Linked DNA regions of Homo sapiens. The protein of the gene in region 1 purifies or fractionates together with the protein of each later gene. This does not show direct contact. Each region holds a gene or a part of one and is shown on either strand. Other genes may lie near its edges.

Evidence for each region. The genes of interacting proteins can lie anywhere in the genome.
Region 2: the proteins of WFDC11 (region 1) and ZNG1A purify together in Homo sapiens (affinity purification with mass spectrometry; one large-scale study listed by BioGRID and IntAct). This does not show direct contact.

The regions. Positions count from the first base shown.
Region 1 is NC_000020.11:45,668,014-45,671,766, reverse strand, and holds the start of WFDC11 (protein WFDC11 precursor), read left to right. Parts: upstream 1-1,527; 5' UTR 1,528-1,589; intron 1,590-3,753.
Region 2 is NC_000009.12:147,995-151,647, reverse strand, and holds part of ZNG1A (zinc-regulated GTPase metalloprotein activator 1A), read left to right. Parts: intron 1-220; exon of another isoform or gene 221-343; intron 344-922; coding exon of another isoform or gene 923-941; exon of another isoform or gene 942-3,653. UniProt on the Homo sapiens protein: Zinc chaperone that directly transfers zinc cofactor to target metalloproteins, thereby activating them.

The sequences.
Region 1 (3,753 bases):
CATTTAAGTCTTTAATCCATCTTGTATTGATTTTTGTATGTGGTAAAAAGTGGGGGTCCAGTTTCATTCTTCTGCATATGGTTAGCCAGTTATGCCAGTAGCATTTATTGAATAGGAAGTCCTTTTCCCATTGATTGTTTTTGTCAGCTTCATTGAAGATCAGACAGTTGTAGGTGTGTAGCTTTATTTCTGGGTTCTCTATTCTGTTTCATTTGTTAATGATTCTCATTTTGTACCAGTACCATGCTGTTTTGGTTACTGTAGGCTTGTAGTATAGTTTGAAGTCTGGAAGTATAATGCCTCCAGCTTTGGTCTTTTTGCTTAGAATTGTTTTGGCTATCCAGGCCCTTTTTGCTTCCAAATGCATTTTCAAATGGCTTTTTCTGATTCTGTGAAAAATGTTGGTAGTTTGTATATAGGAATAACATTGAATCCGTAAATTGTTTTGGGCAGTATGACTATTTTAACAATATTGACCCTTCCTATCCATGAGCATAGAATGTTTTTCTGTTTGTTTGTGTTGTCTCTGATACAGTGTTTTATAATTCTCATTGTAAAGCTCTTTCACCTCCCTGTTTAGCTGTATTCCTAGGTATTTTATTCTTATTGTGGCTATTGTGAGTGGGATTGCATTCTTGATTTGACTCTCAGCTTGGACATATTTCTATGCATTTCATACGATTGAAATGCTGCTAGAAATGCTGATTTTTGTACATTGATTTTGTATCTTGAACCTTTGCTGAAGTGGTTTATCAGATCTAGAAGCTTTGGGCAGAGACTACAGGGTTTTCTAGGCTTATATTGTCTGTGAATATTGTCTGTCAAACATAGTTTGACTTCCTCTCTTCCTATTTAGATGACTTTTATTTCTTTCTCATGCATGATTGCTCTGGCTAGGACTTCAATACTATATTGAGTAGGAGTGGCAAGAGTGGGCATCCTTGTCTTGTTCCGCTTCTCAAGAGGAACGCTTCCAGCTTTTGTCAATTCATTATGATGTTGGCTGTGGGATTGTCAGAGTTGACTGTTACTATTTTGTGGTATGTACCTTTGATGTCTGGTTTGTTGAGGGTTTTTAACATGAAAAGATGTTAAATTTTATCAAAAGCCTCTTCTGCATCTATTAAGATGATCTTTTTTTAAAGTTTGGTTTATGTGATGAATCACATGTATTGATTTGCATATGTTGAATCAATCTTGCTTCCCAGGGATAAAGCCTACTTGATTGTGGTGAATTCATTTTTTTGCGGGGCAGGGGGGAGGGGGGGTGGGTATTGCAGGGAGCTCCCAACAGGAAACAATGTGGTGGATTAGCTTTTTGATATACTGCTGGATTTGGTTTGCTAGTATTTTGTTTAGGATTTTTGCATCTATGTTCATCAGTGATATTGGTCTGAAGTTTTCTTTTTCTGTTGTCTCTCTGCCAGGTTTTGATGTCAGAATGATGCTGACTTCATAGAATGAATTAGGGAGGAGTCCCTCCTCCTCAAGTTTTTGGAATAATTTCAGTAGGATTGGCACCAGCTCTTCTTTATATGTCTGGTAGAATTTGGCTGTGAATCCATCTGGTCCAGGGCCTTTTCTGGTTGGTAAGTTTTTTTTTAATTACTGATTAAATTTTGGTACTTGTTATTGGTCTGTTCAATTTCATCCTGGTTTAATCTTGGGAGTTTGTATGATTCCAAGAGGTTATCAATTTTGTGTAGGTTTTCTAGTTTGTGTGCATAGTGGTGTTTGTAATAGTCTCTGATTTTTGTTTGTATTTTTATGGGGTCAGTGGTAATATCCCCTTTGTTATTTTTGATTGTGTTTATCTGGATTTTCTCTTTCTTTAGTAGTCTAACTAGTGGTCTACCAGTCTTATTTATTCTACAAAGAACCAACTTTTGGTTTCATGGATCTTTTGTATGGTTTCCCTTATCTCCATTTTGTTCAGTTCAGCTCTAATTTTGGTTATTTCTTTTCTTCTACTAGCTTTGGGGTTGGTTTGCTCTTGTTTTTCAAGTTCCTCTAGGTGTGATGTTAGGTTAATTGGAGATATTTCTAACTTTTTGATGTGGGCATTTAGTGCTATAAACTTTCCTCTCAACACTGGTTTAATTGTGTCCCAGAGATTTTGGTATGTTGTATCTTTGTTCTTATTAGTTTCAAAAAACTTCTTGATTTCTGTCTTAATTTTGTTGTTTACCAAAAAGTCATTCAGGAACAGGAGCATGTACTAACAAGCACATGTAAGTGTGTGGTTTTGAGAGCTCTTGGTATTGATGTCTATCAATAAACTATTTTTGGATTAAGATATGTACACTGTTTTTATACATAATGCTGTCACACACTTAGTAGATCACAGTATAGTGTAAACATATCTTTTATATGCACTGAGAAACCAAAATATTTGTTTGACTCACTTTATTAGGGTGGCCTGGAACTGAATCTGTAATATCTATGAGGTATGCCTGTGCTATAATTTTTCCATGTGATTTAATGGAGTTTTCCAGAAGTGAAATGAGTTACCCAAGGTCATGGAGTTAGCAAATGATAAAGATGGTTTTTTAATTTTAATTTTAATTTTTTAGTATCTGCCTCTGTAAAGATGGGTTTTAAGTTTACATCGGATGAGTGTAAGGCCTGTGATTGTGACACTAGACAACTGTGAATAGTCAATAGCCTGCTGGCTCCTCCGACCTACCATCTGAATCCTCTGAATGTCTATATCAGGGTCAAGATGAAGGAAATGGTCTGACATTTTCAGACCATTTCTTTGTTGGTGCAAGTATAGCCTAAACATTATGAAGAGAGAATTGGTAATATTTATGCACAGATTGAATTATCTGTATTTCTACTTTTATTGGCTTTCCCAAGGAATAAATAAATAAATACTCAAGGATTTAGTTATCATTATGTAACTAATAGTGAATTTCTACAATAGGGAAAAACTGAAACCACCAAGCTTGTCAACAACTGGTGATTAATTGGCAGAGTAATCTACCAATCTATGAAATTTTTGAAAATATTTAGGAGTACAGGAAAATATTTATTGTAAATGTTAAACTTAAAAATAGTCACAGGATTATCCACTATATAAAAATATATATGTACATAAGAAAAAGTCTACTAGAATATATGCACAAATGTTAGCATAGGTTGACAAGATTAACAATTATTTTTAAATTTAATTGTCATTTTCATATTTTTACAAAATTTATGCACTAAGCATGAGTTGCTCTTTTATTAGTACAAGAGCAAAAAATGACATCTTGAAAAGAAATCTTTTTCTTTTTTTTTTCCTACGGAGAGAAGTAAATGATATAAATTGATGAGGGGTCCCAGGAATAGGACAAGGCCAAGAGTATATTGTAAAGTGGGAAGAGGCAAGGAAATAGAACTAGAGAAGAAAATGTTAGGACAATCTACAGGCTTTGCTTCTCTCCCACTTTCCCACTTTCTCATCCCAACCAAACAACTCTGGGAATATTCCTAGACCCAGTCAAGACTTACTCAGAGCCTCTCACAGTCAGCTCAGCTCCTGAAATTTCCCTTCCCATTATGCCCCTCTGCTAGCACTGTAAGGGTATCTAGAGAGAGTGCCTTGGTGATGGGAATAAGCCCAAGATGTATCGTGGCTCTGAGGCCCAGGAAAAGCTGTGGGCTTCACCATCTGGCATACCTGGCTCTGAATTCACTTCCTTTCAAATCTTGTTTCTACCACTTATTGGCTGTGTGGCCTTGGGCAAGTTGCTTAGCTCCTCGATGCTT
Region 2 (3,653 bases), on another chromosome or scaffold:
AAATACATGGAGTCTTTACCTTGAAGTTCCTGACAAATTCTTTTATTAAATTTTGACTTTCATTTTCTCTAGGTTCTGTTCCTAAAACATCTGTGAAGTGTATTTCTGTAGATTAAATTCTGTTTTCCATTGAATGTTATCTTAATTTCAGAAAATTTCTGTGCAGGGTTATTTTATTAAGCTCATTTTTTTTTTTTTTTTTTTTTTTTTGGTGAGAAAGGCTCAGCAGCTAATAGACTCAGCAACAGGCAGCCAGGAGCTCTGAGGCTCACAGCTGGCAGTCTAGTTCCACTCAGTCTCTACTGGAGAAATTCTTTCTTTGGAAGTACAGCAGAGGCCTTAGGTGAGTGGCTTGTCTGCTATGGCAGAGATTAGAGGTGCTGCCAGACTGCCATAAGTGTTAGGCAGTAACAGCAGCAGCTGCTTATATGCATGTGAACAGCTGGGGAATTAATTTGGTATGCATTCTCAGGAGCCACTCATCTGCTGGCAGAGGTAGCAGAAGAATGCCCTTAGTGTAAGTCCTCTACAACCATACACCAAATGTGCTCCCTGCATTTCAAATTCCATTGTAGAAAGTCTCTGATAATCTCACTTATACTATGAGCCATTCCTCAGTATCTGTCCTCTTCCTGTTAGTGTTCTACAATTCCTTTCTCCTTAATTTTTCTCCGCTTTACAAAATGTCACACAGACAAGTGCATAATACTTAAACAAGCTTTTAAAAATAATGCTCATAAATAGCTTTGGTTCTGTCATAATATTCGTATTTATAAACATTTTAAGTCAATTCTCTTCTTTTGTTTTCATTTCAGAAATATCCATGTCCTGAATAAAAGTTGTGTCTTGATTAGTTTATTATGTAACAATTTAGTGTGTTTGACATTTCTAACTTTTATTTCTAACATTTGCTTTATTATAGAACAATAAACATGCAGTGATTGATTTTTCTTACTTCAAGTGGATGAGTGAGCAAGTGACTAAAATCTTCTGTGAATTATTCAGTGTATGGTGCTTGCCAGTGCATCTGAGAATCTAGGGACTTTCTGAAATAGTACTTCCTTGCTATGAGGACTGAAGTTGCATTAGAATCCTTTTCAATGAAGATCAGATGTCCTGAGTACAATTCTTACTATTGGGTCCTGAATCTTACATTAAATATTCTCTCAAATTCCTTGAGGCATAGCAACTTGAGCTTACCAGTTTAGAAACTGGAGATTTGGGCTGGGCGCGGTGGCTCACGCCTGTAATCCCAGCACTTTGGGAGGCCAAGGTGGGTGGATCACGAGGTCAGGAGATGGAGACCATCCTGGCTAACACTGTGAAACCCCGTCTCTACTGAAAATACAAAAAATTAGCTGAGCCTGGTGGTGGGCGCCTGTAGTCCCAGCTACTCAGGAGGCTGAGGCAGGAGAATGGCGTGAACCCGGGAGGCGGAGCTTGCAGTGAGCTGAGATCGCACCACTGCACTCCAGCCTGGGTGACAGAGCGAGACTCTGTCTCAAAAAAAAAAAAAAAAAAAAAAACAAAACCGGAGATTTGGTTAACAAAATAGTCAAAGTCACTCTTATAGAAGTTTTGTTTTATTTTTTGTTTAAAATTTTTTTACCATTTTGTAGCTGACAAGTACTGACAATAAACTGCTATAAGCATGTGTAGAAAAAGGCTCACCTTGAGTAGTTAAGAGTAAGGAAAAGGAATAGTGTGTAGCATCGTCTTAGTGGTAAGACTTAAGTTGATTTAGTAGCAAATGGAAGTACTAGTGAACCACATAGATTTCAGAAGTAGGAGTAAAAGGTTAGAAGATGTGTCATTTTAATCTTCTCTAGACTTTTTCTTAATTTTTAGAAATGTAAGTGGACTGAACAGAGGAAAACCAAAACACAGCTGGTCAATAATAAGTTAAATTAATTTGACAAACTGCCTACTATGCATTTCATAGCATTTTAAGGACTATATAAGCAATGGATAAGGCAAAAACTCTGCCTTTAAGGAGATCAGTCATTGGGGGGAAACAGAAGCAAACAAACAAAAAGGCAACATAATAGATATTAATATTAATACAAGAATTTTAAAAGCACAGAGTTCTATAATAATAGGAAAATAGAGGGAATGATTGCTCAACTTTTCTTGAAAAAGAGTCAGGAAAATATTGACCGAGAAGACAGTCATTGACCTGAGTCTTAAAGAATGAATAAGGCTTTTACAGATGGAGTAGGGTAGGGATAACTTTCCAGGTATAAGGAAGATTTTGTATTCCAGGGACCTTTGAATTTTTTAGAATGGCTAGAAAACTTGGTATTATGTAGCACAGAAAAAGTGGTATGACTGAAGAGATAGAGAACTTACCACAAAGGGTCTTGAATGCCATGATACATAGTTTGGATTTTCTTCTGTAGGGAGCAAGGAGTTAGTGAAGGATTTTAAAAGCAACATGCCTCTTGGGAGGTAGATTCAATGTGAGGCTAATCTCCGAGGTATAGGAAATACAGGAAGGAGGAGCAACAGGTCGGGTAGTGGTGGAAGCAGGTTTGGAAAATGTGATTAGTTTTGTAAGCGTTTTTGAGTTTGAAGTGCCACTGGGGAAGGCTTTTGGAAATTTATTTCCAGAGTTCAAGACTGAGCTATCATTGCAGTTTGCTCAGCTATTTACTGAGCTATCTACTGTCAATTTGGATAGTATCTACAGTTTGCATTGTAGATACTGGATACTTGGATTGGCTGGTGCACCCTGTTTGTGAGACTCACTGGAGTTTGAAGAGATGACCACTGGAAAATATCCCTAAGCAGTAGCTGCAATTCCACCCCCACCTTGGAGAGCCAAAACCCTCTTCATTTTCACTCTCCTGTCCTTGGTCTTAGGCTACTTAAAGCAGCCTTTAGACATAGGGAAAAATTGAAAGCCTCTCTTTTAAGAAAAACATTAGGTACTTCTGGAATAGAGAGTTCAAGAAATTAGGAGAAAAATGAACTTTTGAAGCTTTTTCTTTCCCTTTTTTGTTTACTTCATTCTCTTACTCAGTTTTAAAATGCTGGTAATGGTCTTTTTTTTCTTTTTTTTTTTTTCTTGGCGATTTTAATGCTTTGGAAAAGATCTCATGGTTTTATCTCCAAAGGAGGAAATTAATTTGATGCCATGGAAATTAGTTTTCTAGTCGTATGCCTTGAATGAGTGAAGAATTTGTTTTTCATGGTGGTACTAAATTTGGGGAAAGCTATAGAAACTTTCATCTGGAAGCTTACACTTTTCCTCTTTTTTGAAAATTTGGTGAGAGACTTGGATATTTTATTGTTTTCTGTAAAAGAGTGTAATTTGTTGTACAGGTCTAATATTGATCCTTTTTTGGAAGTATGGAAAGAATCTGAGTATAAAGCAGAATTACCTCTGGATGGCATGTATTCTCAAGGACACTGTCACAGTGAAACAGTTTATTTAGAAGCTTGTGTTTCCAAAGTGTTGAATTTGATATTCACAAAATTGGCATGTGTAAACTTTATTAAACTTTAAGCTATTTCCTAAGATGAAGATGACAAACTTGGAGGGAAACTTCATTCATTTGGTTTATTTTTATTTTTATTTTTATTTATTTTTATCTTTTTGAGACAGAATCTCACTCTGGTTTGAGACAGAATCTCACTCTGTCCCCCAAGTT